2 separate regions of the Homo sapiens genome follow, and region 1 is linked to region 2. Evidence: fine-mapped expression QTL. A gene starts in region 2. The other region holds a variant in brackets. All regions are shown on one strand. Distances are between the middles of the regions.

Region 1 (16,523 bases), 42 kb after region 2:
CAGCCATGCACTGGAGGGCAAGCTAAACCTCACAGCCCTGTGCCAATCCTCCCCTCACAAGACTGCTGACATCCCATGCTCTGTGTAAGCACAGGAACAAGGGAAAAACCCACAGGGCAGGGAAGTAGACTCCACTCATAATGGGAGACAGGGGCAAGTATATATTTGATGAGTGATCATAGAAATAACAACTGTGATCTAGATTTGCTTTGCATTGGCACACATTGTTCTTCAGTGGAGTACCATGGAAGGGGCTTATTGGTACAACAGCATGGCACACAATTTTGAAATCAGGCAGCCCTGACTTTGAGTTCTTGCTCTGCTATTAATATTGACTAGCTGTGCTCATATATATGTTCCTTAACTGCCACTAAGTCATAGTTTCCTCAATTGCTAAATTGGGTTGTTGTGAGGATTAAATGAGAAAACAATGTGGAGCTCTTAGCAAAGTGATGGGTTCTTAGGAAGCAGCCAATAAGTAATCATAACAGTTAATATTAGTGGTAGCTATTGGAAAGGTATTTGAGATTCAGGGATGAATGAAAATCACTGTAAATCTAGAACCCTACCCTTATCTAAACTATCAATCTCTTTTTATTGAACAGTTTCAAATTTATTTTTGATAAACAATTTTAATATAGTCAAACATTTATTAGAAGCAGAAAAGTCATTGTAGAGCACTTGAATTATATTTAAAAGTTTAGCGGTCTAAACTAGCAATCTAAGATGATTGTGAAATAAAGGCATTTAAAATCCTCCTACTTGCTTATCGGAACTACCATACCAGTCAGGATAAGCTAAGCCACGCTGCGCTAACAAATGGCCTGCAGATCTTGGTGCTTTACACTACTAGCAAATGTTTCTTTTACGCTTCTGCTGCCTGTCCACTGGGGGTCAGCAGAGGCCGTCTTCTCTGTCAGCATCACTCTAGGATGCCGGCCACCCAGCAGCCTCTCTGTGCCACTCAGCAGAGGGAGAAGAGACCTGGGGAGCCACGTGCTGGCTCTTGTTGCTTCTCTTTGGAAGTGACACCGTCACTTTCACATATGTTTCATCAGCCAGAGAAAGTCAGCTATGGCTGGCTCAATAGAGCCAGTAAGTCTAATCCTCCTGAAGCAGAAGCTCTGCAGAGAGAGGAGCCAAATATACTGAACATAATACAGTAGACAAGAGAATGTGTGTGACTCTGAAACCATTAAGGGAGTAAAAGGAAAAAAGAAGGAAACAAAAAATGTGGAAAAAGAAACATGGCCATTAGAAATCACAACTTAAGGAAGTATCAAGTAATCAAAGCTAATGGCCGCTCAATAAATATAAAGAAACTAAACTCACAAAACAGACTCTCATATTGGATGATAAAACAAAATTCAAATATATATACACTTTACAACAGAAACACATAACATGAAATGACAAGAAAATTTGAACACTGAAAGAAGAAATGTTTACATCCCAGATCAAGAATCAACAAAAAGGAAGTGTTACTGTATTACCAATTAAAATAAGCAACCAGATTTTTCCCAAGAAAATACACACTTCACCTATATTCTCAAAATTGTTGGCAAAAAGTTAATCATAGTTGTGGTAGGCAGAAAAATGATCCCTAAAAGGATGCTGACACCATAATCCCCAGCAAAGAAGCCCACGACATTAGGACTAAATAAAAATGTTAACCAGGAAGACATGAGAATTTAAAATGTGCATTATTATACAGTATGTTATCAAATAAATGAAGGAAAAAACTCACAGAATTACAAAGAGGCACTGACAAATACACAATCATAGTTGAAATACTTGTCTCACATTGATCTAAAGTCAACCTTTTGTGGTGTTAATTCCCCCAGCATCTCTGGACTGTACAGATGTGGGGCCGAGTAAGTCCAAAGGCCTCTTCTGCCTCAGGAGCAACAGGGAAGCCAGGGCAGGTCTGGGCAGTATGAACAGAACATAAGGAAGGTTCCGTGAAGTTGGTCCAAGTTCCTGCAGATAATCCATCTTGGCGGCAAGGACAGATGAGACCAGGAGAATCTGAAATGGGTACAAGAACTGTGTAAATCATGAACGCGCACAGAGAAACAGCAAACTGGGGACAAAGAGAGGGACCCCTGCCAACAGGGACTCTGAGATCTGTGTCTGAGTCCAGTCCCTGAAATCTCTGACCTTGGAACCTATGGTTAACTGAACAGTGGCCCACCAAGATGTCCCCATCCTAATCCTGGAACCTATAACTATGAGACCTTACATGGCAAAACAGACTTTACAGATGTGATTAAGTTAAGGATCTGCCATGGCCTGAATGTGCCCCCTCAACAGTCATATGTTGAAGCTTAATCACCAATGTGGCAACATTAACAGATGGGGTCTTTAGGAGGTGATTAAGTCATGGAGCAGAGCCCCTCATGAATGGGTCTGTGCCCTTACAAAAGTGCCTTTCCATCTCTTCTGCCACTTGAGGACACAGTGTTCGTCCCTCTTTCCCTTCCACCATCTGCCAAGTGAGAATACAGAAGCAAGATGCCATCTTAGAAGCAAAGAGGAAGTTCTTACCAGACACTGAATCTGCCAGCACCTTGATCTTGGACTTCCCAGTCTTCAAAACTGTGAGAAATACATTTCTATTATTTATAAATTACCTAGTTTGTGGCATTTTGTTACAGCAGCACAAATGGACTAGGATAGGGTCTTAAAAAAAGGAAGACCCTGGGCTATCCACATGGGTCATCTGCATAATCACAGAGTTCTTTATGAGAGGTGGCAGGAGGAGATAGAGAGAAATGAGAATGCCACGTGATGATGGGAGCGGAGTAGAGGTCAGAGCAATGCACTTTGAAGACAGAAAAGGGGCCATGGGCCAAGGAATGCAGGCATCCTCTCGAAACCATGCTAGATAAAGAAGCTGATTCTCCGCTGAAGCCTCCAGAAGGAAATGTCCCTGCTGACACCTTGACTTTAGCCCAGTGAGACTCATTTTTGAATTCTGCCCTTTAGAACTTTAAGCAAATAAATGTGATATTGTCAAGCTACTGCATTTGTAGTAGCTGTTACAGCAGCACTGGAAGCTCATGCAGATCCCTTTCTTTGATTCTGGGAGCTACATCTGTGCCCCTCCTTCTTACTTAATAGCAAGTCCGTTCGTTTTTTCTGTGTGTTGTTTGCATTGGAGAGAAGGGAGAAGTCCTGAACTATAATCAGTCTGTACTCTGTAAAGTGACAGAGGCAATGTCCGATGTCTCAGAGCTGCCGCTGAGGGCAGGGCTGCACCACAGGCTGCCCAGGGAGCCAGTGCAGAAAAAGGGCAGCCCTTTGGTTGCCTCCTCTGCATCTCATGGTCTTGCTTCCACTCATGCAGGTGACCCTCACTGGTACATCTGAGAGAAAATGCACTCCCAGGAGCAGCTACTGCTCTTGTGAAGAATATTCCTGGAGGAGTCCACACGGGTGGAGTGGATCTTGGAGGGATGGGCCCAACGCAGCCTCCCTCAGTGTGCGGGGATGACATGAGTGGGGGCTCTTCTTCCTCTGGAGAGGGTTTCGGGGCGAGAAAGATGAGCAGGGACTGAACTAGTTTCTGGTCTTCAGGTTCCAAAATAAACCTCTGAGATAAACCATTCGGGGTCATTGCTGCAGGTTTGTTCCTGAGAATGCGGGGACATTCAGAGTGGGAAAAGTTGGCTTTCTGGTGTGGGGACATCAGGTCCTCTGACTCCCACTGTGTGTATGACAGACCTAAAAATCAATGTGCATGTGTTTATAAAATGATGCAGAAAAATTACAGTGTCTTCTAGTCTCTGAAGCATGGCTTCTAACAGCCTTGGCTGGTTTATACTTCAACTTCCAAAACCATCTTTGGGAACCCAAGTCTTTATGGTTTTAGAAAAACAGCCTCAGACACCCGATGACTCCTCGCATGATTTTCCATCCATACTCCCCCAGAGCCCTGATTCCCCAACCAGTTCCAGACGTCTGAAAAGAGACAGGCATGCTTTGATGGCGCACTTCTCCAGTTGAATTTGTTCTTTGGTGTTTAACTTAGAGTAGGAAGAAAGATATCTAGAAAGGAAACCCATTGTTTTCAATGTCTTTAAAGCAAAAGAATCACTATCTGAACTGTCTTGCCTGTCATCATCTTAATCTTAATTGCCCTTCCATCTCTACGCATTTTGTATATAACAGATCACTCTTGCCGCCAGAGCTACCTTGAACTGCTCTAACTAAGCCAGCCTGCTGTAAGCACAGCACCCCTGACAGAGGTCTCCCAGTGGTGTCTGGAGCATCACCTGCTACCCTGCTGTCCTGACATGAAACCATGCTCCTCTGTGAAGCTGTGCTCTCTCAGTGACATTGGTCCTGCCGTCACCCTGGCCTTGGCAGATACATTGATCTACCTCATCTCCTGTTTCCCAAATCCAACATAGTACAGCAGAAACCAGTCTACATATTTTAATACAATTTTGTTGAGAGTTCAGGGATAATGGTAGAAAAATACATCCCAGAGTTTACCTTACACTGATGTAAGGGACCTTTTCTCCAGATCCTTTCAAAGGCCATCTGGCTACCTACAAACATTTCACAAGGTCTCAGATGTTCAACCTGAGACAGCGGCTGGGCCAGGGGAGCTCTGCCCAGCTCCGTGCTATTGTTTTTCAGGCGCTCCCCACCCACGGTCCAAAGGTCTTGGGTCCAGCGCCACAGAGCTGCTCTGCCCCTTCAGAGACCAATGCATGCATAGAAAACCAAAGAACATTTCCTCCAAGCTCCTGCCTCGTTCCTGGACTTTCAGGAAACCCAGAGCTCTGGAGAGCACATTTAGAAAGCTACTGGCTATTTACATGAAGCTATATTCTCCCTCCAAAGGTACACTGGGTTTGCTTTCATATCTTCAGCCAAAACAGCACATTTGGTGAGCATCTTCTCTTTTGCTAAGAGGCCCATGAGCAACTTTTCTGCCTGCTGAGGAGACTTGCAGGCTGTTCTGTGTCTTCTGCTTTGGGCAGCTGCTTGCCCTGGCTGTGGAAGGCTCCTGGAGTCCCCTGGCTGCTGACCTGACAGGACCAGCCACACGCCCCTTACATTTGCTCGTACCAAGGCTCAGCAGCCAGGCTGAGAGGCTGTTCTAGCCGTTTCTTGGCCCTGTCTCCACAGACCCTCACCAGGGGCTGGCAGAGTCCCTGGGCTTGCCCCATGCACATTGGCAAGGCTGAAGGCTCGGACAGGAGATATCCTTTCAGAGTCACTGACGGTTACGTGCCAGCCACGCACCCTCCGACCTCTCCTGTGCTGTAACCCCAGCACCCTTGTCTGTGTGTCTTCTCAGAGGACAGGAAAGAAGGGAGGTGCCTGCTTGGAATGAGAGCATAGACTTTTTCCATCTAAGTAAAAGTGCTGGGATGCTAGATCCACAGGTCTGTTTATGGGCATAGAAATGCTTTACAAACAGAGCTGGTGTGTTGAATCAGTTGTTCAGGGAATCTGTGCTCCTTTTCCTATCTCCAGGGGTCTGCGTGTTATGGAATTTGGCTAACACCAACCTGAATATGATCTGCCTAAATCACAGCCCGGCTCCTGCTACAGCGCTTTCCTTTCTTTCTCTCTGTAACTCGGATGTGCAAACATTGGTAAGAGAAACCAGAACTCAGGGACAATGAGAGCAAATGGCTGTGCGTAGATGCCAGCATTTGTCACCCCTAAGGCGAGGGTCCTCTTTCTCCTTGTGCTCCTGTCTGCCAGGGGAGCAAAAGTTTTATTGGAGAAACTAATCATTGAATTAACTTCAAAATACATTCAGAACCTTTGGCATTTACAAATCCATCCTGTAATTAAAAACACAAATAACTGAAGGTTTTTCCATTGTTCAAAAGTATTGGTTAATTGAATTATTTTGTTGTCATTTTTTGTGTCTAGTTTGGTCTAGACAAATATTGGGAGGGGCACTAAGTACTTCATCTGTTTTCTAACTTCATAATAGAATTGAAGAACCATTGCGTATGTGAATTTTGACACTCCACATATCCTTAATGTCAATCCCTGAAAAGAAATTTGCTGCACTTGGGAAAATTGAAAATTAAAAATGCCCAAGTCTCAAAATGGATTTCTTCAGCATTACAAGAAAAAAAGATAGAACTGGTGTTTTTGTTTAATTGGCTAAATTTTTCTAGCACAGAAAAAGATTTGTTTCTTTCAAGTTTGGAGTGCAAGCCTTGAGCCACTCTGGTGTCATCCAAATTCTAAATGTGCTCATACTCAAATAAATCAAGACCTACGTACATATACGTGTGCACACATCTGTGTATGGAAGCACTGACTGCATGGCAGAAATCATGGATCAAATCTTCTTTCCCTCCCCTGTCTTCTTTCTCTCCCTACAGCGTCTTTTCTTCCTGTTGTACCCTTGCTGTCTGTGCACTAAAGCACAACCCGAAGCCGCACCTTCTCTGGGACAGCAGCCCCCTCAGCAGGCCTGGTGCAGGTGTGAATCAGCATTGGGGGCTGCTGAAGCCCACCTGAAAGCCTGGTGGCCTCAGCTTCACTTTTAGGGCAGATAAAGGGTTTGTGTTGGCACCAGGCTTGAACCAGCTTCTTGTTTTCTTTGGGGCCAGGACCCTAGTCTAGTGCAGCTTCACACTCCTGTGTAAGTGGCAGCCCCTCTCCAGTCCTGGATGTAGGAGGCCCCATCGGGACCCTGAGGGCTGCGACATGGGCCCTGTATGCCCAAGGCCCACGCACAACATGGGGACACCAGCTCCCCACGGACGCTCCTTGCACGCCCTCCCTGCATTCCCCTCTCTACATCACTAGTAGAGAGGGCCCTGCTTTCTTTCCACCCCTTTCCCCTGCATGCCCCCTGCTGCCTAAGAAAGCCCCTGGAAGAAACCCAGCTTCTTGAAGTGGTTAAATAAACAGGAGGCTGTGATTCATTCAGCATGGGGTGGCGGGAGGGGGAGGGACCTTGCCAGATCCGTCATGTGGTGCCTCTTCCTTGTGAGCCTCTGAGTCACAGGGCAGCAGGGGTGGCGTCCTCAGGGATGAAAGCTGAGGAGGCTGTAAGCGAGTGAGTGCATGTGAGTCTGTGAGTGTGCGTGTGATGTGTGTGTGTGAGTGCATGTGAGTCTGAGTGTGATGTGTGTGAGCAAGTATGAGTGCATGAGTCTGTGTGATTTGTGTGAACAAATGTGTGAGTGTATGTATGTGTGGGTGTAAGCAAGTTTGTGAGCACGTGTGTGATGAGTGTGAGTGCATGAGTGTGTGACATTTGTGAGTGTAAGCAAATTTTTGAGTGCATGTGAGTCTCTGAGCAAGTGTGTGAGTGCGTGTGTGTGATATTTGTGAGAGTGAGCGTGAGGGTGCGTGTGAGGTGAGTGTGAATATATGTGAGCTGTGTGTGATAAGTGTGAGTGCATGTGAGTGTGCATGGCATGTGTGAACAAATGTGTGAGTATATGTGAATCTGAGTGGGTGTGATTGTGTGTAAGCGAATGTGAGTGCATGTGAGTCTGAGTGTGCATGTGGTGTGTGAGGAAGTTTGTGAATGCATGTGTGTGATGCATGTGTGTGAGTGCATGAGTATGTGACTGTGCAGGTGATGTGTGAGCATGAGTGCATGTGTCTGTGCATGTGATGAGTGTGTGAGTGCATGTGTCTGAGTGTGCATGTGATGCATGTGAGTGCATGGGAGTCTGTGTGTGTGATTTTTGTGAGTGTAAGCAAATTTGTGAGTGCATGTGTCTGTGTGATGTGTGAGCGAGAGCATGTGTGAATGCATGTGGCTTGTACGTGTAAGCAAGCATGAGTACGAGTCTGAGTGTGCATATGATGTGTGTAAGCAAGTTTTTGAGTGCATGTGTCTGTGTGATGTGACCGAGTGTGAGTGCGAGTCTGTGTGATGTGTGTAAGCGCATGAGTCTGCATGTGATGTGCAAGTGTGAGTGCATGTGAGTCCGAGTGTGTGTGATGTGAGTGTAAGCAAGTTTCTCAGTGCATGTGTCTGAGTGTGCATGTGATGTGAGGGTAAGCGAGTGTGAGTGCATGAGTCTGAGTGTGTGTGATGTGTTTGGGTGTGACTGAGTGCATGCATGTCTGAATGTGCATGTGATGTCTGAGTGCGTTTCTGAGTGTGCAAGTAATCTATGTGTGTGAGTGCATGTGATGTGTGTGTGAGTGCATGTGAGTCTGAGGGTGTGTGTGAGTGTAAACAAGTGAGTATGTGCATCTGAGTGTGCATGTGATATGTGTGAGCAAGCATGTGAGTGCATGTGAGTCTGTCAATGTGATCTGTGTGTGTGAGTACATGTGGGTCTGTGATGTGTGTGAGCTAGCGAGTGCATGTGTCTGAGTGTGGGTGTGATGT[ATAAG/A]TAAGTTTGTGAGCACATGTGAGTCAGTGTGTGTGATGTGTATGAGTGGGTGAGTGCATGTCAGTGTGCATGTGATGTGTGTGTATAACTGAGTGCATGTGCATCTGAGTGTGTGTGTGTGTGCATGTGATATATGTAAGCGAGTGTGAGTGCATGTGGGTGTGCATGTGATGTGTCTGTGAGTGCATGAGTCTGTGGTGTGTGAGTGTAAGCGACAGTGAGTGCATGTGTCTGTGCATGCAGTGTGTGTGTGAGTGCATGAGTCTGTATGTGCATGTGATGTGTGTGTGAGTGCATGCCTGCGTGTGATGTGTTTTAGTGAGTGTGTGAGTGCATGTGAGTCTGTGCATGTAATGTGCATGAGTAATTCTGTGACTGCACATGAGTCTGTGACTGCATGTGATATGTGTGAGCAAGTGTGAATTGTGTGTGTGGCATGTGTGTAAGTGAGCATGAGTGCACGAGTCTGCAGGTGATGTGAGTGTAAGCACGTTTGAGTACATGAGTCAGTGTGCATGTGATGTGTGTGAGCAAGTGCATGTGAGTCTCAGTGTGTTTGATGTAAGCAAATGTTTCAGTGTGTGTGTGAGCAAGTGTGTGCATGCATGAGTGTTCGTGTATATGTGATGTGTATGTAAGTGACTGCATGTACGTCTGAGTGTGCATGTGTTGTGTGAGTTTAAATGAGTGCATGTGAGTCTGAGTGTGATGTTTGTAAGTGTAAGCAAGTTTCTGAGTGCATGTTCGTGAACGTGAGTGGTTTGTGAATGTAAGCAAGTGTATGAGTGCATGAGTGAATGTGCATGTGATGTGTCAGTGATTGTGAATGCATGAGTCTGTGAGTGTGCATGTGATATGTGAGTGTAATTGTGTGAGCACGTGTGTGCCTGTGATTTGTGTGAATGAGTGTGTGTGCACGTGAGTCTGCATGTGCCTGTGATGTGCAAGTGTGTGGGAGCCCATGTGAGTCTGAGTGTGCATGTGATGTGCAAGTGTCAGTGAGTGCCTGTGAGTCTGAGTGTGCATGCAATGTTTGTGTGTAAGCTAGTTTGTGAGTGCATGTGAGTCTGTGTGCATGTGATGTGTTTGTGTGAGTTCCTGAGTGTGCATGTGATGTTTGTAAGTGTAAGCAAGTGTGTGAAGACACGAGTCTGAGTGTGCATGTGATGTGTGTGGGCCAGTGTGAGTGCATGTGAGTCTGAGTGTGCATATGATGTGAGTGTAATTGTGTGCATGTGTGTTTGAGTGTGCATGTGATATGTGAACAAGTGAGTGAATGTGAGTCTTTGCATGTGCATGTGATATGCAAGTGTGTGAGTGCATGAGTCTGTGCATATGATGTGCGAATGTCAGTGTGTGCTTGTAAGTCTGTGCATGTGATGTTTGTGTGTGTGAGTGCATGAGTCTAAGTGTGCATGTGATGTGTGAGCGAATGCACGAGTGTGAGTCTGTGAGTGTATGATTCTGAGTGCATGTGATGTGTGTGAATGCATGTCTGTGTGTGATGTGTGCACAAGTATGTGAGTGCATGCAAATGTGTGTGATGTGTGTGAGTGTGAGTGAACATGCTTGTGTGATATGAGTGCATGAAAGTTTGTGAGAGTGATGGGTGTATGTGTACATATGAGTGTGTGTGTGCATATGTGCATTTATGTGTGCAGATATGTATGCATGTATATGGGTGTCAAAGGGTCTGCGTGAGCAAGTGTGCGTGAAAATCAGTGAGAATTTTTGTGTAAGAGCCTACGTACATGAGTGTGAGTATGGGTGCCTGTGTGCACGTGTGAGAGTATGAACAGATGTGTTAGCATGTGTGTGTCTTTGTGAGAGTCTGTGTGTGTGTATGTCTGTGTGCATGTGTACATGTGTGTATGCACACACACATGCTTCCTTCTGTTTCCTCTACCTTCTCCCAAACTGCTTTCTCAGGGAGAGGCTTTGAAACAAGACTGTTTCACCCGGCTCCCAATTTCCATCAGTTCTACAGAATCAGTGGTCACCTTGGCCCTGCTCCCCTCCCCACCCTCAGCCCTGCCTCCTCTGCCAGGCTGGTCCGAGTGGGTTGTGAGACTCCACAAAACCGTCTTTTTTTTCAGGGGACCACACCTACTTGTTTGTCAGGGGTTATTCCTTGTTAATTCCGGAGATGTTTATAAAAGTCTCAAGTTCTATTTTCCAGTTGGGTGAAGCTGTCATTTCTGCCTTGGTCAGGAGGACTAATGATTTCATTGCCTGGGAGGTTATGTGTCTCATCTACCATGGTAAGGCAGAGAGATGGACACACAAAATGAAGAACAGAGGGCAAGAAGAAACCCTACACCCTAAACTAGGAAAAGGTGTTTAGTGAAGGCATTACTGAATGCTTCCAAGTGTTCTGTCATTGAGTCCTCCAAGAAGCCCACTGCTTAGGTATTCTTTTACAGGCGGAGGAAGCTGCCTCCACCCCTGTCCCCACCCCTAGAAGTCAGGAACTCGACCTCACACAGCTGGGGAACAGTGCAGCCAGGATTCTAAACTCCCCCTGTCAGATTCTAGTACATTCTCTTTCCCTAATACCAAGTGGTTTCAAATATATTTAAAGTATTAAGAAAATATATAGCTTTATCTTTTTCATAAATTTTACAGGAAAAACTACCTTTAGCACTAAAGCATGACCCAAAGCTTATCTGGTGAAATAGCCTTGGGCTATGGAAGCAGTTATGGGAAGGTCGATCTGAAATCCTCATTTTGCCTGCCCTCACTGTTGCTCAGCCCCTTATTATAGAACAGATCCAACGAAACTCTGCAATATCATAACTAGAGTTTATTTGTCCAAAGCCTTGTGATCTGTCCACCATTGGGGACAATGTCTTTAAATCAGTGGTTCTCAACTAGAAGCAATTTTGTCCTCCAAGGGACATTTAGCAATTTTTGGAGACATTTTAGGTTGTCCCAGTTGGAGGTGGAGGGTGCTACTGGTATCTAGAGGGTAGAGGCCAGGGATGCTGCTGAGTGTGCAGGACAGACCCTGCCACAAAGAATTATCTGGCTCAAAATATCACTAGGGCAGTTCCTTTCTTTGTCTGTTGGTTGGCTGGCATGAGGAACCCAAAATGACGGGAGTCTCAACTTGGGTGGAACTCTTACACTGCCCTCTAGTGGAAGCAGAACCTCCAGTCCAGTAGAGAGTGACGTTGCAACTCTACAGGAAACGCAAATTCCCTGAGTGGTGGCGAGAAGGACAAAGGCCAAGGACATGGAATGGGATTTCAGCTGTAGGCTTGGCCCATATGGGGCTGCCAGGGAGGCAGAGCCTGTGTGTGCCATCTTTTTCCTCCCAAGAACCCGACTGACACTAAGCCAAACTTCTCACAGAGCTGTTCCCAAGGCACAGAGCACCAGAATACATTTCTGTTAAACAGCAGGAAGAGGCCAGATCTGGGATTCCAAATCCTTGATCTAAGGGTTGCCATCCCACTATGGAAGTTTTCCAAAGTGGGTTTACCAATCTACATTCTCATGAGCAGTGGATGAAAGTTACACTTGGTCTACATCCTTGTCAACATTTAGTATTGTCTATTTTGTTTTTTAAATTTTATTCATTCTGAGGGATGTACAGTGTAACATCACAATGATTTTCATTCGCACCACTCTAACAGCTAATAAATTGGAGCATCTTTTCAAATGTTTATTGCCATTGGACACTCTCTTTTGTAAAATCTCTTGCCCATTTTACCTTTGGATTGGTTTCTAGCATTTTATTATTATTGATTCTTCAGAGCTCTACATAAGTTCTTGATCATTTTTTTTGTCAGATATATGGAATGCAAATATCCTTTCCCATCCTGTGGGTTGTTTTTTTACTCTTCATATGTCGTTCATCTTAATGCTTATATGCTGGAGTTTCTTTTCATTGCATTTTTGATTTATCTCCATTGATTCTTGAATTTGATATCTTCCTTTTCCCTAGCTTCCTCTTTTTTTTTTTTTTTTGCAGGAATTTTTGCTAATCACATTTTCCTCTCCTCATGATTTACATATAGAAGACAATATTCTGATTTTTTGACTGTTAACAGGTCTTTATTTTGCCTTCCTCCTTTATTGGTAGTTTAGTTGGGTATGTAATACTTTAAGAATTCTCTTTTTTTTTCAGATTGCATCAGTGCAACAGTCATGAAGAAAGAATATTATCTCCTCAAATCTCTTTTAGAATATACAGTTCAAATTTCTTAACCTTGATTTCTTTTCTGTAAGTTTTCTTTTGTTTCTTGAAAGAGCTCTGTTTCACACAGGTTCAAATTTCCCGAATGGGTTGTTTGCCATCGTTCCATTTGCCAAAACTGATGAGTTTTCAATGCTTCTTTTAGCCTTACAAAGGGAAATTCATCTCAGGTAAAAGAATAAGCAGCTTCAAAAATTCTTGACCTCTCTTTTTGGTATATTTAATGCAATTTGATGTGCAAGGTGGGAACTGCAATTAGTCAGCAGGAGCAAGGACTTGGAAGTCTTGTGCCAGAGCAGTTTCCTCTCTGGTTGCCATTGGCCCTGGACTTCTGTAGCCAGCTAGGGTGATGAGCCTTTATCTCCCATTGCCAGCTGACCTGGTTGGGGCCGACTTCAGCCGCAGCTGACACAACAGATTTGCTGTGCTCCACTTGAGGCACCCTCCCCACCTTTCTCTACAGGTGGTTATTGTAGCCTGAGGTTGCCTCAGGCCTGGGGCTGCAGTTGAACAGAAATTTGTCCCCATTAACTGAACCACAGTAATCTGCAGCACCCCTAGAGAGTGTAAATGAGCAAGAAAATTAAGTGGAAACTCAGTGATAGAAATCATCTGTAGTTTTAAGTATATGCCAAACAGTAAATTCAGAGATTAGGGACTAAATGCAATTAAAATCCAACTTGACATCTAGACTTTTGCTCATTGCTTCATCTTATGATAAAACCCATAGCCAGTTGGAGCTTCTCCCTTATTAGCTCATTCTCAAATTGTCTGTACTTCATATTTTACTCAAGTGATCCAACAGCCCTGGCTTAATTGTTCATGACACTGAAGCTGACCTTCAGCTGGGAGAACTAATTGACCAGCTCCTAATTCAGCTGTAGGAACTCACAGACAAATCTCTGAAAATGTCTTGATTGCACACTCTTGTGAGATTCTAGACTAACTTTCCTAAGTGTGCCTATAAATGCTAGCTTAAGTTCTTTTTTAATCAAGACAGCATGTCAAAGATTTATATAATTAGCTCAGTTTGACCTTTCTCTAGTTAATCCTGTTGACTTTAGATGACTTTTAGTTCTAAGGCTCACCACTAAAATGTAGTCCCTCCAAGCTAAGTTTACCCCGAGAAAAATGTAGTCCCTCCAAGCTAAGTTTACCCCGAGAAAAATGTAGTCTCTTCAAGCTAAGTTTACTCCCGAGATTTTAAAATAAACTCCATTTTGTTAGTTTTTAAGGAAGGGACCAACCCACATGACCTGAGGAAGGACAAAGTATTGTTAACATATCAATTTTCTCAAAGTGATTAACAAAAGCAGATTCCCAGTGAAAAAAAATTGAAACTACAAAATCATGTCAGTATTTATCTTTAGGAAAGAAAAGATAAAAATAGTCAAGAAAGTGATATTTTATCAAATTATAATGAGGGGATATTGGCATTGTCAAATACTGAACTAAATATATCAAAGGTATACTGATTAAAATATAGTGATACTGATGCAAAAAAAAACAAGAGAAAATGAAGAGAAAAATCTAAAATCAAGTACACATATGTATTTAGGACAAGACAGAAATAATAGTTTAAATTAGTGGAGAAAAGAAATACTATTCAATAAAGGGTGCTTGGTAAATTGTTAAATAACATAGCCATAGCAAATAAATTTGACAAGGATTTAAAATAGTAATTAATTTGGTGAAGGTACCAAGAATGAAGACTCAAAAAAGACCATCTTTCTGAAGGGTGTTGATATCCTAAACAAGTAAATATTTATTAATACTATAATTACAACTATAAGACTCCATCTAAATAGAGATGTGAAAATATCTACAAACCAGAAACAGTCATTTTAGAATGTTATCTGTAGTAGGAAAAGATTTCTAACAATTTAAATGTTCAGCAATAGAAGTTTGAGTAAGTCGTCAATCCGTAAAATGGAACAATATGCAGCCATTAAAGTCACGTTTTAGATTAATGACGTGGGAATACGTTTTCAATAAAGTATTGCTATGGATGTCTCCAGGGGAAACAGTACAGGGGATTTTAATTTTCTTCTTTGTGCTTTTCTGTGTTTTTGAACCATTATGCAGTCAATATTGTTTGTTCCAATGACATTTTTGAGGAAGAAAAAGAACCATGTGTATAGACAGATAGAACGTTAATTGATTGATGCAAAACAAAACAAGTGAAGAAAGTTCTGAAAAAAAAAGGAGATAGTTAATTCTTTTTACAGGTGGAGATAATTTGGAATTTGTGATTTTTATACAAAGTTAAAAACGAAGGAACAAATAAGCACATTATTCGTTAAGCAGGTAAAAGATCTTGGCAGTCAGAAAAACCGACTGACCACTATAGTGCTGCCCACCGGGGCCCTGGGAGGGCACAGGACTTCCTTAAATGCCCGTCCAAAATATGCCTTAAAAACCTGTCGCCTCTTCAAGATAGACATGGAGAGAAAGGAAAACAGCCAATTACTGTAGACCATAGCCTTGTGAGGAGTGATGTCTTTGATGGTTTTCGATGTTAAAATGTCTTTAATACATAATTTATTGAAAAAAATAGTATCTTGTAAAAGGGAGGGGAAGAAGTAAAGCTAAACACAGTATTTGGTTGTGGCAGCAATTAATTGCTTCTATCACTTTTTGTTTTCTTTTTTGGCTTTTTATTTTGAAATAATTTTAGACTTACAATTACAAAAATAGTTCAAAAATTGTATTATACTCTTCTGCCAGCTTCCCCAAATGTTAATACCAAGATAACCAATAGTTCAATTATTAACATGAGATTAACGCTGATAAAACACTGTTAACTAATCTGTAGGCCTCATTCCGATTTCATCAGTGTCCTTCCTGTGGCCTTTTGCTGGTCCCAGATCCAATCCAGAAGCCCACGTTTAGTTGTCAGATCTCCCTGGTCCTCTAATCTGGGACAGTTCTCAGTCTTTGCCTTTTATAATCTTCACACCAATGATGAAAGCCCATCTGTTATTTTGCGGATATTTTCTTTGTGACGCTGAAATTATGCATTTTTGCCAAGGGTACCCCAGGAGCAACGCTGTGCCCTTCTCAGTGCATTGTGCTTGGTGGGTACGTGAGGTCAATATGTCTTATTACCAGTAATGGTAACTCGATTTGGTTCAAGTGGTGTCCGCTAGGTTTCTCCACTGTAAAGTTTCTGTTCTTCCCTTTGTAATCAGTAAGTATCTGGTTGGGGGATACTTAGAGGCTGTATAAATACTCTGTTCTTCATCAATCTTTCACTCACTAATTTTAGCATCCATCAAACGACCTTTGCCTGCAATAATGAGTACTACGGTGTTTGCCGAGTAATGATTTTTCTATTTCCATCATTCTTTCTACTGGAATTCTACTGGAAGTTAGAGCTGAACTTCCCCTCCTGTTTATTTATTCAGTTATTCTTCGTATCCATGTGGACTCAGGGGTGTTTTCTAGATTCTAGGAACTGTCATGTGTTGCCATCATTATACATTTTGTTGCTCTGCGTATCCCAGGCTCAGTCACTGGGGGAGCCTTCCGGTTGGCCCCTGTTCTGGCATGGCCCTGTCATTTTTGGATCCCTTTCTTACTCTCTAGCACCACAAAATATTCCTGGCTAATCTTGCTCATTCCCAGTGTCAGCCCTGGTGTCAGCCATTTCTCCCAGGAGCCCTGGTTCCTTTAACTGGAGATCGTTATTTAGAGTCCAAGGCCTGGGCACTAGGTGCATTCACTGCTGCCAGGGCGTCACTGCTACTCGGCCCTCCCCTTTGTCCCTGAGGTCCATTTGTCACTGTGTGTTCTGCCTTGGACCCCTCAACATTCTGCCTGTGTGGGAAAGGCGAGACACTCTCCAGTCCCTTTACCGAAGCTGCATTTTACCTCTGTCCACTGTAGTCAGAGTCCAGTAGTGCCACCCCTCCTGCCCCTCTTCCCCACTTTCTTGCGTTCCTGCCACTCTAGGTCCAGAGTACAAAGTACAC
Region 2 (16,523 bases):
TGTTGATTTTGTATCCTGCAACCTCGCTGGACCCAATACTATGTCAATCAAGGAAAATGACCAAAGCAAGTCTCAATCATTTTAAGGAGGTGTATTTGCCAAAGTTAAGGGTGTGCCTGGGAGACATGTCTATGCCTTTTTCGAGAGATGATTTTGAGAGCTTCAATGTTTAAAGGGGAAAGTGTGGGATATTGAGAAATGCACAATTTTCATGTTGCGGGGGAGGAAAAGAGTCATTCGTGTCTTTGGCTCTGTGAATATGCATTTTTACTTAAGATAACACAGAGGATAGGGGAGAGGAAAAAATCAGATATGCATTTGTTTCAGGTGGGCAGAGGGATCGCTTTGAGTTATGCCCTATGTCCCCGCACCTGTGAAGATAAGCTATTAATTTACATTGCCATGGTGAACTTTAACATAAATGCTTTAGGGTAAAGATCTTGGGGCCCACAGGGGAGGTGTGTAGCTTTTCACGTGTGTAGCCATCTTATTTAGGAACCAAAATGGGAGGCAGGCTTGCATGACCCACTTCCCAGCCTGACTTTTCCCTTTGGCTTAGTAAGTTTAGGATACCAAGATTTATTTTCCTTTCACAATTAGTTCTACCTGTTTTTTTTTCTTTTTTGATGAATTTCTTATATACAAGATCATGTCATCTTTAATAGATATAGCTTTACTACTTCCTTTCCAATTTGGATGCTTTCCATTTATTTTTCTTCCCTAATTGCACTGGATAGAACCTGTAGTACACTGTTAAATAAAAATGGCAAAAGCTGACATTCTTGTCTTCCTCCTGATCATAGAGAAAAGCCATCAGTCATTGACCATTAAATGTAATGTTAACTGCAGGTTTTATATAGGTGTCTTTTGTCAGTTTGAAGACGTTCCCTTCTCTCCCTAGTTCAGTAAGTGTTTTTATTATAAAAGGAGGTTGGATTTTGTTTTATATATGTATTCTGCATCTATTGAGATGAACGTGTGTTTTGATCCATTATTCTGTTGATATGGCTTATTACACTGATTGGTTTTTGGATGCCAGAGCCATTACTCTGGCACATGGCAGGAATGGTAGCCTCTGATCTTCTCAGCTTTTCTACTGGACACAGAATATATGTTTACCCCAGAAAGCAAGCTGGAGTGAGGGCAATTAGGACCCCTGTATTCCAGACCTGTTATGCCTAGTGTATAGTCTCCATCCATGAGTGGGAGCTTGGTGGAGGAAGGGAGCCTCCTGCCTCTTGGCCACAGTTAGCTAGAATTTAGCGTTAAACTTGGAGTTGGAGTGGATGAGAAATGCTTGCAACCTTCGCCTTCTTGTGAGACACCTTATCCCTTGTTTGATAGAGGAAGGGAGAGTGAGCCCCATCTTCTTGACCACATCCACCCACAGTGGAGCTTCTATGAAGCTGAGCTAGGTGCGGGGCTGGAAAGAGCAGATTATGGCTCAAATGCCACACACTCTCTCTGTTCTTACCAAGTTGTGATAGATTTTATTGAATAAATTTTTTTTTCATTTTTTATATACCTTTAAGATAATTTCCAGAAACTTTTAAGTTTTCTTAGAAATTTTCTCCAGCTATGGTTGTTTCAGTGGGAAGTGTCTCCACAGAAGTGGAACTCCCCTTCGTGCACTTTTTAAACTCTAGGGGTGGTAATGATGTCAACTATTGTGAGCCCTGGGGTACTATCCTTTGTAGTTTTCCAGTATCTTGCCAATACCTTTGTAAATAGCCATTTTATTAAATTTTCCTCAAATTGCCCAATCTGAGATATGGTTTGGCTCTGTGTCCCCACCCAAATCTCATCTCGAATTGTAATCCCCATGTGTCAAGGGAGGGAGGTGATTGGATCACGGGGGCAGTTCCTCCCATGCTGTTCTCATGATAGTGAGTTCTTATGAGATCTGACGGTTTCGGGGTTTTTCTGTGTGTGTGTGTGTTTGTTTTTGAGATGGAGTCTCACTCTGTTGCCCAGGCTGGAGTGCAGTGGTGCGATCTTGGCTCACTGCAACCTCCACCTCCCAGGTTCCAGGGATTCTCCTGCCTCAGCCTCCTGAGTAGCTGGGACTACAGGTGTGTGCCACCACACCCAGCCAATTTTGTATTTTTTTGGATTTCATCATGTTAGCCAGGATGGTCTCGATCTCCTGACCTCATGATCCGCCCACCTTGGCCTCCCAAAGTGCTGGGATTACAGGCGTGAGCCACCGCGCCCGGCCGAGATCTGACGGTTTTATAAGTGTTTGAGAATTCCTCCTTTGCTCTTCTCTCACCTGCCTCCATGTAAGATGTACCTGATTCCCCTTCTGCCATGATTGTAAGTTTCCTGAGGCCTCCTCAGCCATGTTGAACTGTGAGTCAATCAAACGTCTTTCCTTTATAAATTACCCAGTCTTGGGTATTTCTTTACAGCAGTGTGAAAACAGATGAATACACTGAGTATTCCATATGTTTCCTGCTACAATCCAGACCGACACAATGGGAGTGTTGTGGGCACAGAGGTGACCCGGGCTCATCATCCGTTCTCCTCTCCCACTCTTTCTCCCACACTGGCCGACTCATCCACATCCCAGAGCTTCAAGAGCAGGTTCATGGGCCAAAGAGCCCCAGGAAGGGAGATGGGCCACTTGATGAATGCTTGCTGTGGTTTCTTCACGACATGAATCAGACAGATCATGTGGTCCTAGACCCAGCCATGGAAACTGTGATCCCGAAGCAAATGGGCAACCAGTGTGAAACTGGCGGGAGCACACCTGAGGCCCTTGTGACATCACTTCTTCAGGGACCTTATTCATAATAAATGACTCTATAGTTCCCAGGAGCAAATGGAGAAGAAGACTTTGAAAGGGCAGAAAATAGGACCAAAAAACGTCAAATTTCAGAGTTTTGAATTAGCCATTGTGCTAGTCCATTTTTGCGTTACTATAAAGAAATACTTGAGACTGGGTAATTTATGGAGAAAACAGGTCTATTTTGGCTCATGATTCTGTTGGCTGTACAGGAGGCATAGTGCCGGCTTCTGCTTCTGGGAAACCTCAGTAAATTTCCAATTATGGTAGAAGGTGAAGGGGGAGCAGGCATGCCACATGGCAAGACAGGGAACAAGACAGAGGGAGGAGATATCGTGCTCTTTTAAACAACCAGATATCACGTGAACTGCTAGAGTGAAAACTCACTCATCACCAAGTGGATGGCATTAAGCCATTCGTGAAAGATCCATCTCCATGATCCAATCACCTCCCATGAGGTCCTCCTCCAACACTGGGGATCACATTTCAACACGAGATTTGGAGGGGACAAACATCCAAACTGCATCAGCCATCCTAGTACAATTTCCAACCTCCTCAATCACTGTGCTTCTCCCAGAGAAGAGTTATGGGACAAGGGCCAGTTTGCACAAGGAGAAGACCAGGTGTGGTAATGGGTCTGAGACCCCCATCCTATAGCCTCCGGAGTGCATGATTCCCTTCAGCACGCTGACCCCATCCCTCGTTGCAAGAGCAGAGAGAAACGCAGTCCTTCCCACTCCAAAGCCAGCATCTCCAGGAACAGAGGGTCCTTGTGGGTGCCTCTCATTGACTTTCTTGCTTCTTCCCAGTCTCGATCCCTCTTCTGAGTCGCACCTCCGGAGATGACAGCCTTTTACACCACACTGCTCTTTCCTGTCCCCCTTCACTTCTCTCATTTACTATCAAAAGTCTGGGGGGAAAGGTGGCTCCAGCACAGTACAGTGACAACTTAAAACTGAATGTCAACCATCACAGCCCTGAAGACGCTTCAGTGCTTCACTGCCACTTGGAGTTCCCAGTGTCCAGGCCAGGGTCTCACCTTAGACCCCAACTGCTCCCAGAGACTCCTCTCTGCCCCCCAAGGACTCTCCTCCTACCCTCTCTGGCATCCAGGCTCCAACTCCCAAATTCCTGTACTGGCCTTCCAAAGAACAGCTTAGTCCTTTAAGTGACACCCCATCTCCACCTCTAACCTGTGATATGTATCAAAAGCCTCACCGGGATTTCCTATTCAGCAAACAGCCACCTTTGTAGGTTTCCACCTCTTAGAGGCCCAAAGCACCTGCCAAAGCGTTCACATTATAGTTTTCCCTTTAAATGATCAAATAGCCAAGCAGGGCTTCTATTGAATATTTCTTTGCCCGAAAAGGGTTAGAGACCATTATTACAAGCTTCAAAATCCTGCTCCTCATAGTTCTGTCAAGTGATCTTAGAATCATACTGCCCTCAGTCCTTCTCTTCCTTGCAGCCGTGGATGAAACTCTGTTGCTTTATTACTCCAAGATCTCTCTAGTTCTGCTAACTACTTATGTGCCCTTCTATTTAATGTTGGCAGTTCCTTGAGGAACACACAAGTGTTTTTTTTTTTCTTTACATTTCATTCAGGGAATTACTAAACAATCATTTCCACACAGAGATGTTGTGGATTACGCCAAAAAAAAAAAAAAAATCAAGGATGGCTGTCTCTGTCTTGAAATGCTTAATAATTTTATCTGTAAACTTGTGGTTTGTAAGTGAGGTCCATTAAGACAATGGAGCATGAGCCAGGGAAACGGGCCTCTACGTGTGGCCACTGATGTTCCATACAGCATTCATAATGCACCATGCACACTGAATTCCCTGTGGACCCCTGATGTTGCGAGGCCAGCAAGACTCAAAGTGAGCACAAGGTACTCGTGCTGTATCTACAACTGAGGGAGCTGGGTGCTGACACCCCAAAAGGCCGCACTTTTCCCCTTAAGAGAGTAAACTTGTTTCGAAGGCAGAAAGAAGGCAATGGTGTCTTAAGAAGCATGAAGAAACCATATTGTATGAGTCATGGTTCTCTAGAGGGACAGAACTAATAGGATATATATATTTATATATATATATATAGAGAGAGAGAGAGGAGTTTATTAAGTATTAACTCACATGATCACAAGTCCCACAATGGGCAGTCTTCAAGCTGAGGAACAAGGAGAGCCAGTCCAAGTCCCAAACTGAAGAACTTGGAGTCTGATGTTCGAGGGCAGGAAGCATCCAGCGTGGGAGAAAGATGTAGGCTGGCAGGCTAGGCCAGTCTCTCTTTTCGCATTTTTCTGTCTGCTTTACATTTCTAGCTGCACTGGCATCTGATTAGATGGTGTCCATCTAGATTAACAGTGGGTCGAACTTTCCCAGCCCACTGACTCAAATGTTAATCTCCTTTGGCAACACCCTCACAGACACACCCAGGATCAATACTTTGCATCCTTCAATCCAATCAAGTTGACAGTCAGTATTAACCATCACTCATATCATATATTTTCTTATTCATGCACTTCTTTATATTAGACACCTGATCATGCCAAAAGGCCAGTCCATAGTTCTTTTGCTTTTCAGTCCTTCCTTACGCATCGGTGAGTCCCAGGTCGAGAGTAGAGGTAGAATTCGTGCACGTAAAGTGCGATGAAAACGGGCAAGTTCACTTTGTGCAGCATCTGTTTTTACCAGCGTGGTTCTGGTAAAAACAAAATCTATATGCATGTATAAGCTATGAAGTACAAATTGCATAATTTCTGTGATTCCACATATGAGATCAGTGCACTTATATTAGTATTTAAAACTGGCATTGCACAACGTAAAGATGGATGGTGAACTTCATGCTAACAATTTAAATCTAAATTTTTCTTGGAATGATATTAAATAACACATAAAAACACTATGAAAAGAGAGAAACTGAGAGGAAAGAGAAAGTTTTATATTTTATGACCTCAGAGGCACTTTCTTTCTGTTTTTTGAACAAGGAAGCTCCGCACTTTTCTCTGAGCTCCACAAATTATGCAGCCAGCCTTGCAGCAGGCAACACATCAAAGCCTCTTTCCTGGGGGTCTAGTGAGGGATGTAAAACACAAATATGTTAATAATATACAATATAATGTCACTAACAGTAAGTGCTGTGCTAAACAAAAGCCAGGATGGCTACAGCAAGCCGGAGGGGAGCTGAGAATTAGATGTAAATTCTGAGGGATGGGAAGGGCCCTAGATTTTAGGGCGTTGTGCAGAAGAGTAACCAGATCTGCTCTACGTTTCAGGAAAGGAAAAAAAAATTCCCTCTGGCTGCGGTTCCGAGAATAGCCTGGAAGGAGGCAGGGGTCCCGGCTGGAGAAGCGTGGCTCCGGGGTGGGGCGTGCAGGGCTAGCCCGGGCGGGGGACGCTGCCCAACAAGCAGGTTTGCGGAGACTCACACCTTAGATTCTGAGTTTTTAAGCTTGTTTCCTCAGAGCAGGGAACTCACGAACGTTTCGTGAGCACCTACGGTATGCAGGGTACGGTGCGGAGCCCTAGCGTCACTGACGACCGGGACAGCCGAGCAGCTGCAGGATCCGTCGTGTTCCCCAGCAATTTTAATATTTAAAAATTCGTTACTGTTGCTGTTACTTGTTTTCTATGTATTGGATGTCTTCGTGAAGAACCCTCAAAAGTGCAACGAACTCCTCCCTGCCAGAGGGCGGCCGCGCGCTCTGAGTACAGCTTCCCGCGGAGCCGGCCAGGTCCTCCAGGGCACCGAGAAAGCCGGCCAGAACGGCGGCGCCCTATCCCGGCCGCAGCGATGTCTGACGGCGCCCCGGAACTGACGGTCTGGTACGCAGGGGCGCTCGGCGGCAACGGCGGCTTTAAACGTCATCGCGGGCGCGACGCCTGAGGGACAGTCTGGGGTTTGGCTGTCCGGACGGTGCAGCGGCGAGGCCGGCCGCGAAGATGCCAGTGGCGGTGATGGCGGAAAGCGCCTTTAGTTTCAAAAAGTTGCTGGATCAGTGCGAGAACCAGGAGCTCGAGGTAACCCTTTGCGTCGCGCTGGGAGAAACTGCGGAGTAGTCTTAGGCCCTGGGGCGGCACCAGTTTCCAGGGTAACGGGGTCTGAGGCTAGCGGGCTTTGGGAGCTCACGGGGCGGGCGTGGGAGGTGGACGTGTGGATCCCTGACCGCCGCAACCTGCTCCGACCGGGCCCGGTCTCCCCGAACTCGCCGGGACCTTTTTGTTATGTGTCTTCAGCTTGTGAGCCCGAAAACCCTGTGCGTCTTTGCTCCAGCACCTACCGATGAGCTCATATTAATTAGGCATCTTTCCTTCCCAGTATCGGGTTGGGAGAGGGTAGTAAAGTGGGTTTTATTAAAGATCTTGGTATACACACACACACTAACACACACACCGCAACTCACACGCACACCAAGAAAAATGTGACCATTGTAACCTTTTTTTAACTCACAAAGCCTTTCTCGTAATGTTGTCAAGTTAGCTTGCCATTTTGTCTTCAGTAAGACAGATGAAAGTTATGCAGCTGTTAAAGTTAATGTTTTTCTTAGACACTTAAAAAGGGTTTATATCATTAGTTTTAAAATTAAATAAAGGAGACAACATCCAGAAGCAGCAGCTCACTAATAGATAATAGATACTTTCCAGTTGAGTTAAAATGGAAAGAATTGTCTTTGCAACGCAGCTGTGGTGATTTTCTGTCTCTTATTCAGGACGCTTGATGTAATGGGCAGAATCAGAATGCTTCAGGAATCTGTCGAATTTGTTTCTTATAATAGTAAGATCATTTAAATGGGAATTTGAGAACTGGGGAAGGGGATCCACTTACATATTCTTGAATGTATAAAGAAACTGAAGCCCAAAGGGAGATAAATCAAAGCTGATGACGAATATAAACTTAATACTCAGAATTTTCGTGTTTGATACTTCTCTAAGCTGTTTCTAAATCTATAATAGGACTATAAGATTACTTATAGTCTTAGACTAAAAAGGCTTACTTTTAAAATTAGCATTTATAAAATATTATTTTAAAAATGAAAGTTAAAGGGTAAATGAGGTTTTTAAAATTTTGTGTTGTTTTGTTTTGTTTTCATTTTTGGCCTTCTAGGCCCCTGGAGGAATTGCTACACCCCCAGTGTATGGTCAGCTTCTAGCTTTATATTTGCTCCATAATGACATGTAAGTATGTTTAACCTAAAGCTAAGAGCAACAGGTTTCTCAAAGTTATATGGAAATATTTCTGCACTGAAGTAGCACCACTAAACATAGGCACAACGAGCTACCTTTTTTATTACAGTAATTGTTAACGTCTATTTCCTATTGAATCATAGGTTAATGAATTATGATTAGGTCGTCATTGTCTTACATATACTTTCTAGAAAACATTTCAATTTATTATGACAAATTACGTCAGTAAATTCATTTAACCTTTTTGTCTTTTTAAGAAACTTTTATGACCTCTATTTACTTAACTTCATATATAATCAATAAAACAAAAGAAGTGAAAAGAGAAGATTGCAGCCAAGAGGAATTCGTTACAAACATGTATGAGATTTTTTAAGTTTTTTTTGTTTTTAATTATTCCTATTTCACGTTCACATGGAAAAGTCAGAAAGCATAACTACTCTAGGCCGGGCGCCGTGGCACACGCCTGTAATCCCAGCACTCTGGGAGGCCAAGGCAAGTGGATGGCTTGAGTCCAGGAGTTTTGATACCAGCCTGGGGAATATAGTGAAACCCCGTCTGTCCTAAAAATACAAAAAATTAGCTGGGCATGGTTGCGTGTGCCTCTAATCCCAGCTACCTGGGAGGCTGAGGTGGGGAGAATCACCTGAGCCCAGAAAGTCAAGGCTGCAGTGAGCTAAGATTGCGCGACTGCACTCTAGCCTGAGCAACCAAAGTGAGACCCTGTCTCAAAAGGAAAGCATAACTGCAAAAAAAAAAAAAAAAAGTCTCCTATAGTTCTGTGACTCACTGATGATTCCTGATAACATTTTATTTTAAACTCTTCCAAAACCTTTCTTTTATATCTTTTTAAAAACTAAATTGAAATTTTTATTACACATATGTAAGGTTTTTGTTTTTGTTTTGTAAAACTGTCATTATATGTTTGTTGTAGTTCAAGCCTCCAAACCCATAAAAACTCCTGCCTCAGAAGCTGTGTCCCACTGGTAGGAGGGGCTGTAATCGGGAGAGAAGTGTTGTGTACCAGGCTTATTGTCAGGGAATGCTACAGCCTTGATAGTACATAAATTTGTTTACTTTTATATCCTAATAAATAATTTGGGCCGTCTATAAATCCTCGTGTTTTTAGTGTGCTGTTGCCTAAATTTAGGATATGGATTATTATTTTTAAAAAATTCACTAGAAATGGCAAAATATTACTTTGGTAAAAATATTTCATGTCCTTTTTATCTGGAAAACCACTATTGTTTCCCCAAAACAAATTCATATAAAACTAAATTTTACTTTGTGTTATGTGAAGTATACTTCTGTATGTTTGGCTTGGGACCTGGTAGTTTTTAACATTTCCTGAGATGATTATGTTTTTAATTGATTATTCTTCTTTGTGGTGGCGTAAATTAGGAATAATGCAAGATATCTTTGGAAAAGAATACCACCTGCTATAAAATCTGTAAGTATCCTTTAAACCTATTTTACTGCTTTAATGTAATGACATTCCCTTAAATGGCAACCTTTTATAAGCTTATGTTTTCTATCTGACGTCCTAGTAATAGTCATCAGATTGGTATTAAGGATTCGAAATAAATCTTCAGAGTCCTCTAATCAGAAATTTGAATTTTGCTGGGATGGTGTAGAATTTCTGCTCAGTTCCTACTGATTAGATTTCTTGAGACGCTTTTATGTGCAGCTTCCCTAGTTAAACAGCTGAGCCAGTTTAGATGAAGGAAGCTCCTGGAGGTGGCGGAGGCAGCTGAGGTGATTTTCAGCTGGTTTATGTTGCTTCCTATAATGGTACTTATTTTGAAACTGCCATCGTTTACAAGAATACTCTAAGAATGATTGACAGCAATAAGATTATTTTTGTTAATTAGGATTTTAAATTTCTTATTTTGGTTGGGAGATTAGAAGAAATAGCCTGTGAAAAGGTTCTTCCAAAGTGGAATGAAGTAAAATTTTAATGTCAAATGATTCCATGTGTCTAACATGAGTGTCAAGTGAAATTTTTAACATTCTCGGGATATTACCAAGAATTCATCTAAACTTTTGTTTATTGATATTCATCAAGAGATCGGATTAGTATTTTTACTCTTTTTTTTTCCCTCATACATTCTGTTCTGTTAAGTAAGATTGGAATATTCCTCAGCTTCTTTGGCTAAATAAAGAAGTACTATAAATCATGCACATAAGTTTCAATGGCGTTAGTGGAAACTCAATCCTTAGAGAGGCTACAATGTATGACATCTTAGATTGAGAGTCTCTATTGTTAACCATTTTGCTATTACTTTTGACCTAAATATATATTCATAATATATCTATGAAATACAAATACAACATCTTTAAAAACAATCCTTAAGCTAATTAGTCCCCAGGCTTAATTCTGAAATGTTTTTTGACTACTTTCTCATGCCTTAATTTGCTATTGTAATAAATTTATATCAGCCCTACAGATAAATTTTACCTTACTGCTCATAGTGTTTAAAAACCTTTTGATAGTGATTGGGCTGAAAAAGTAATTGCATCTTTTAAAATAAATGTTGAATTAGGTTTTAATGATGTAGCTAACAAGTTTTTATATCATTTCTGGTATTTTGTTTTAAGATACAATCATTGGTGCATTTACAGAGTGAATACCCTCTAAGGCAATAATATTTATTGCAGGCAAATTCTGAACTTGGGGGAATTTGGTCAGTAGGACAAAGAATCTGGCAGAGAGATTTCCCTGGGATCTATACAACCATCAACGCTCACCAGTGGTCTGAGACGGTCCAGCCAATTATGGAAGCACTTAGAGGTAGTGTTTCTTTGTGGTTAAAAATGAAATTAGATGAGACTTAGTCCCTAAGTGCTGCAGTGTTGAAGTAATAAATCAGTGGTGTGTGTTTAAGTAGATATTTTTGATAGGTGAAAAGAGCAGTTTTCAGAATTTTTTAGATTTGCCCTAATCATGCTTCTTCATTTTTTGTTGCTTGAGATTACATTGGCTGCTGTGCTTTTGTTGTTTCTTAATTCTAGACAGAAATTGCTCGTCAGTTTTAAGAGTTTTTTTTGCTATTAAAACGAGATCTTGTAATATTCTAATAAGTTTAAGGTATGGGTTTGTAGAGATGTGAAAATAGAGACTGCTCTTTGAATTTTGTCAGCCTCAGCCTTTGATAGGTGTTGTCTTAAGCTTCTGGATTTTATAATTTATCAGTTTAATACATAGATGCTCAAATGTGTTTTTAATTGCTTTGAAAGATTACAAGCCTGGTGTGACAGAGCACTGATCCCACAATAAAATCTCATTCCCTGCCTCTCTACAGTCTCTCACCCCTAGCATTTGCTTCCAGTCCTCCTGGTTCACTCTTTATAAAATTATATAATCTTGTTTTATGTTGTCATGTACTGTTATTTCTTATTGTTACCCTTACTTCCATAGTTAATATCCACCTTCACTGTATGCCTTCCTGCTGTGGAGGAAGTCAGTGAGCAGGAATTTTTTTAATAACTGTTCATCACTCTGCTAAGGGATATCAGCTTTACAGGGCAGCAGACAGCAGAGATTGTTTCTGAAATGCACATAATTCCCTTGGAATGGTAAAATTCTTAGCAGCATAAAACATAACAATGTAAGTGACAGAACAGGAGGCAGCTACTTTAAATGTGAATGAAATGAGCAGAGTCCTAAGGCAGGCAGATAGATGGGAAGGGAGGAGTGTGGAAGAAGATTGCACAGGTACAGCAGGGGCAGTTTCAGAAAGTAGCACCAGAAACCTCTTCATATAAGCCCTGAGGAATTAGCGTTATAGTGGACTTCCATAGTATCCTCGTGATTCAGCCTTGTGATTGTGGTGGGGCGGTCACAGGCCATGTGCCTTTTCCCAGTGTTTTACAGCGGGTTGATTGGCAGGACTGGGCTTGGGAACTCCTTACTCGTTCAGCAAGCATTCTCTTGTGCACCGTCGGGTCCGTAGTTTTATTCCTTCCCGGAGCCGCCTCTCACTGAATTCCATGAGATTGAGAATTCCTGGCAAGCAGTTCAGTAGACCCAGGAAAGGCTATATAGCGTACCATGCGGGAGTTTAAGCTCTGGGTCCTTGCTTCCGGAGTTCAAATTCTGATTCTGTCACTTACTAGGGTGACTCCTCAGTGTCTTATTTTCCTCATTTGTGAAATGTGATTAGAAATAGTACTTTTTCAGGTTGTAAATGAGTTAATATATAAACATGTACCTTATTCTAAAGCACTACAGTATTCCTGAACATATCCTGAGACTTTTACAAATCTCCAGATTCATGAATGGTACTGTGGTTTCCTTTGTAAAATGCAGCCAGGTCAGGATAGTCTCTTAACAGATTGGTCTTACTGATGAATTTAACATTTTGCTTCTTAACTTATTAGAAACTTATTTTCTAGTTGAGAACAATCACTTTCTTAGATCTCTTTCCATTCTCTTCTAAATTAGGCACAGTCCTATTAGAAAACTGAAAATGACTTAAGAGAAGCTAGTGAAAACTATTTTTGCAGGAAACAAGGGCTGAGGAAGTACTTAGAAACTAGGTAGACAGTAGCCATTCTCATCTGAGGCTTGAAAGGGCAAGGCGAGGGGCCAGTGTTACTGGGGCTGCCCCACAGGATGGATACAGAAGGTCAGCTGGAGCAAGGCAGGGAAAGGGCATAGGAAGTGAATTCCCTGACCTTCCTTCCCAGCCTCTGACCTGATAGAGCCCCAATTCGCCAAAGCAAGAGAGCTCAGGTGCAACAGGCATTGGCGGCCAACCTCCCTGGCACACAGCATGGCTGGGAAAGACAGAAGAGGATTCGAAAGGATGGGAGTGACTAGTTCATCTTCCCTTCTGTCTCCAGCACTGGCAGTGATGGATGAGCAGCACTTGAGTATTTGTTGAACAACTGAGTTTGCATTCTGTTAGCATTTGTTTTCACCAAAAATGTGTTCCATCAACTACTGCCACAGATATTAGGTGCTGGCTCAATTTATTCCACCTTCCAGCGTGTCATTCTAGGGCCTGAGGTTACAGATTTCACAACTTGAGGATCACAGAGTGACTAGTCGGAATGTAGATGTGATTCGTGCCAAGTGGATATTGCAGCTTCTGAGACAGAGAACACTTAGCCTTTATTTTTGCTTTGTCAACTCACTTCTCCCATCACATGTTTTTCTTTCCTTTTCCAGTGATATCTTTTTACTTTTCTCTCCCTTTTATCTCCTCCATTCTTACTGTATTCCTGTTTTATTCCCCACTCTGAAAATATGGCCAGAATATTTGAACTGAAGTAAATGTTTTTGAAATACAGTTGACTTACCAAATGAATATAGTTTTATGGTGTATACTTTTACTTCTCTAAAAAAAAAAAGTATACTTTCCATTGTTGGCTCTTTTCCATTGTTGGCTCAGTTCTTTTCCATTGAATGTATGCAGCCTTAATAGAAAACGTTTCTTGGTATTGCAAAGTCTGTTAGGTTACAGGCTGGTTGAAGGAAGGAAGGAACCTACAATAATAAGTGTAAAGCCACAGAAGGAAGAGCAGACAGTGGCTGAGTGAAAGCTGGAGAGGATGTCGGGCTCAGATGAGGGGAAGGGATGGGAGTGTCGGCAGTTTTTAAGGAATCTGAGAAAACAAAGCCTAAGTGTTGGAGTCGTGCCCCATTTTGGTCCTCGTGATGCCATCAACAAGCATGTATTTGGCATATATTTCACTGGAGATGCTAGGTGTTTGGGGGACTTTGAGGATAAGAGATACCCCTTCCTGTCGAGAAGTTTGGAATATAATTGAAAAGAAGGGGATAGGTGGAACAGTGTCTGCCGTAGTGGAAAGTTGCTTGTTAAAGTAGAAGTGTAAACAATACTGCTGAGTTTAGAGAAGGGCAGAGATCGTAATGAATTATAAACAGACTTAGGAATGGTAGAGAGCAGACAGGAGGGCATTTCAGGCCACGGGATAGCATAAACCAAAAGCCCCAGGGGGAGAAGGTGTAAGACTTGTCTGAGAGCCAGTGGACTCGTTTGGCACAAAGGGTATCTGGGGGAATTGGTGTAGTTTGACAATGTCCCAGGAATGGAGAGAAGATTTTAAATATGTTAGGGTGTTTGTTTTACATATGTACACTGGCCTATTAAATATGGAAAGTAAAATCCAGAATATTTCCTAAGCATGTTGACCACCAGGTGGAGGAGCTCTTGCATTACCAATGAGCAATGCCCAGGGAGAAAGGCCAGCTGGTTTCACAGTGCTCAACTCTACCGTACTCCTGAGTTTATTTAATTGGGTATGGAAGCCTGGGGACAATCCTAAATGCCACTTTCAGGAAAGTTTTCGTTGCTGGTATTGTTTGGCAGTCCCTTCTTAGAGTCATTCTTTCAAGGTGGGAATTTAGGATTTTGAACCTTAATTCAGTCAAGAGTTTGATGCAGACTTGGAAGAATGCTCCAGTTACAAGATTTGTTCTGTAACTCCCAGGTGTGGTCCTGTATTAGAGACGTTTTTGAAAAGGACAGCTGATTACGCAAATCAGTTTTCTGCTCCTTTGATTCCAGCATTTGTAAATGAAATAAGATAAGTAAAATTTATATCCCCATTGCATAAACATACTGCATTTTCTTAGGGTTAGAGCCTTGTGTTTAGTAACCTTTTTCCATCTTTGTAATTTTCATTATCTGAGATTTTTCATCCAAGAGGAAGTGTAAGAAATGTATTTTTTTCCAGCAATATTTGAACCCCCCGTACATACTGGGCATATGTATTTGTATCTATAAGCACAGAAATCTTTGGGTTCATCTGGCCTTGCTTATGAAAACTAGACAAGGACAGTGGTGTGATTTAACAATGTGCTTTGAAAATGCTGCTCCCTGGTTCACTCTCTGCCAACCCACCACTCCCACAATAGATGCAACAAGGAGACGCGCCTTTGCCCTGGTCTCTCAAGCGTATACTTCAATCATCGCCGATGATTTTGCAGCCTTTGTTGGACTTCCTGTAGAAGAGGCTGTGAAAGGTAATTTTGGCTTACTTTTTACTTATAAGGAAAATGGAAAATAGAAGTGTGAATTGTAGGTTCACAGTCTCCTCTGAAACACTTGGAACAGAATATGCTTTTGGAGTCCAGGCTGTGTTTTTTGAGAGGTGATATGAAACAGGTGTTGTGGAACACCCAGCAGGCACCCTGCAGTCAAGCATATTAATAGTTCTATAGCAAGCAAATGTGTGAGTATCCACACAGTTGGTTACAAAAATATGTCTTAATTGGTCTCTTTACTCATATTTGGAAATCCTTATTTCACCCTTATTTGATAAAGGCAGCATCATCCCCACGTCCCTTTTCATTTTCCCTGCCATTTCTGACCCATACCCTAGGCGCTTGCTTGCTCCCCACTCATACCTGCTGGTCTCTCCAAATGTAACTTTGCATTTTCATTTCTCAGCTGATGCCCAGACTAATCCTTCCTGTTGCTCGTTGTTATAGAATACTGTATACACCTGGCCAGGTGCAGTGGCTCACACCTGTAATCCCAGCACTTTGGGAGGCCGAGGCGGGTGGATCATGATGAGGTCAGGAGTTCGAGACCAGCCTGGCCAACATGGTGAAAGCCCGTCTCTACTAAAAATACAAAAAATTAGCCAGGTGTGGTGGCAGGCACCTGTAATCCCAACTACTCAGGAGGCTGAGGCAGGAGAATCGCATGAATCCAGGAGGTGGAGGTTGCAGTGAGCTGAGACTGTGCCACTGCACTCTAGCCTGGGCAACACAGTGAGATTCCATATCAAAAATATATATATATATCGTATACACCTTGTTGCATTGTTTTGCCATGATTGACATTTTTGATTCTCCAGCTAAAATATGAGCACCATCACGCACTACATCCTAAATTTCCAGGGCCTAGCATAGTTGTAGATACATGAAGATAGGTTAATGAAAGTTCTAAGTTATTACTTTTATTTACTCATACAAACATTTATTTCTTTTGGCTCTTAAAATTGGTCCATCATTTATTTTCTATATATAACATACTTCAGAGCTCGTATTCTCAGCTGACCACCTGGATGTGAATGCTGGTACCACCCGTCCCTGATGCTAGTGGCTATGTGACTTAGGACAAATCACTTGAATTTCCCTCAACTTTATTTTCCATACCTGTCAAACGATGGCCCTATATCCCACTTCATAGAGTTGTGGTGATTACATAAAATCATCCCTATAAAAGCACGTAGTCTGGTACCTACAGGTAAACCTTCCATATATGGAAGCTGTTTTTATTATTGCCATCTTTGTTATTACTGATATGATGGTCACAAAAGGCGCCATATCAGTTTTCCTTCTGTTTGTTTTAAATAATACTGATTAGGTTAATACTATAATATATTCTTGACAGAAAACTAACCATCTTTTAATGATTATAGCAACCTAATAGAGTAAAATGAGGCTTTGATACCTGTTTCAGAAATATTTCAATAATAAGTTTCCATGCTCTTTGTAATATACCTTTCTAGTAAAAATGCATATGACGGGTTATACTAAACACATCAGGTCTTCTGTACAACTAATGTCATGGACAAG

The links. PIP is the estimated chance that this variant, and not a neighbour inherited with it, causes the effect.
Region 1: its variant is fine-mapped to the expression of COPS8 in whole blood (TOPMed, PIP above 0.99).

What each region holds. Positions count from the first base shown.
Region 1 is chr2:237,121,506-237,138,028 of GRCh38, forward strand. It overlaps LOC124906127 (a long non-coding RNA gene), which reads right to left. Exons shown (of 2, transcript XR_007088143.1): 2 at 12,303-16,523. Among named protein-coding and RNA genes, the nearest start is that of COPS8, 44 kb to the left of the region's middle. RefSeq lists enhancers at 4,589-5,104, 5,105-5,619, 6,597-7,156, 16,111-16,523. The variant ATAAG/A (reference allele first, on the strand shown) is at 8,345.
Region 2 is chr2:237,079,238-237,095,760 of GRCh38, forward strand. It overlaps COPS8 (COP9 signalosome subunit 8), which reads left to right and starts at 6,652. Exons shown (of 8, transcript NM_006710.5): 1 at 6,652-6,805; 2 at 7,890-7,960; 3 at 9,368-9,416; 4 at 10,625-10,757; 5 at 14,853-14,960. The coding sequence starts at 6,728. COPS8-DT (COPS8 divergent transcript) reads right to left here and starts at 6,584. Exons shown (of 3, transcript NR_187934.1): 1 at 4,919-6,584. RefSeq lists enhancers at 5,698-6,592, 6,233-6,782, 6,593-7,487.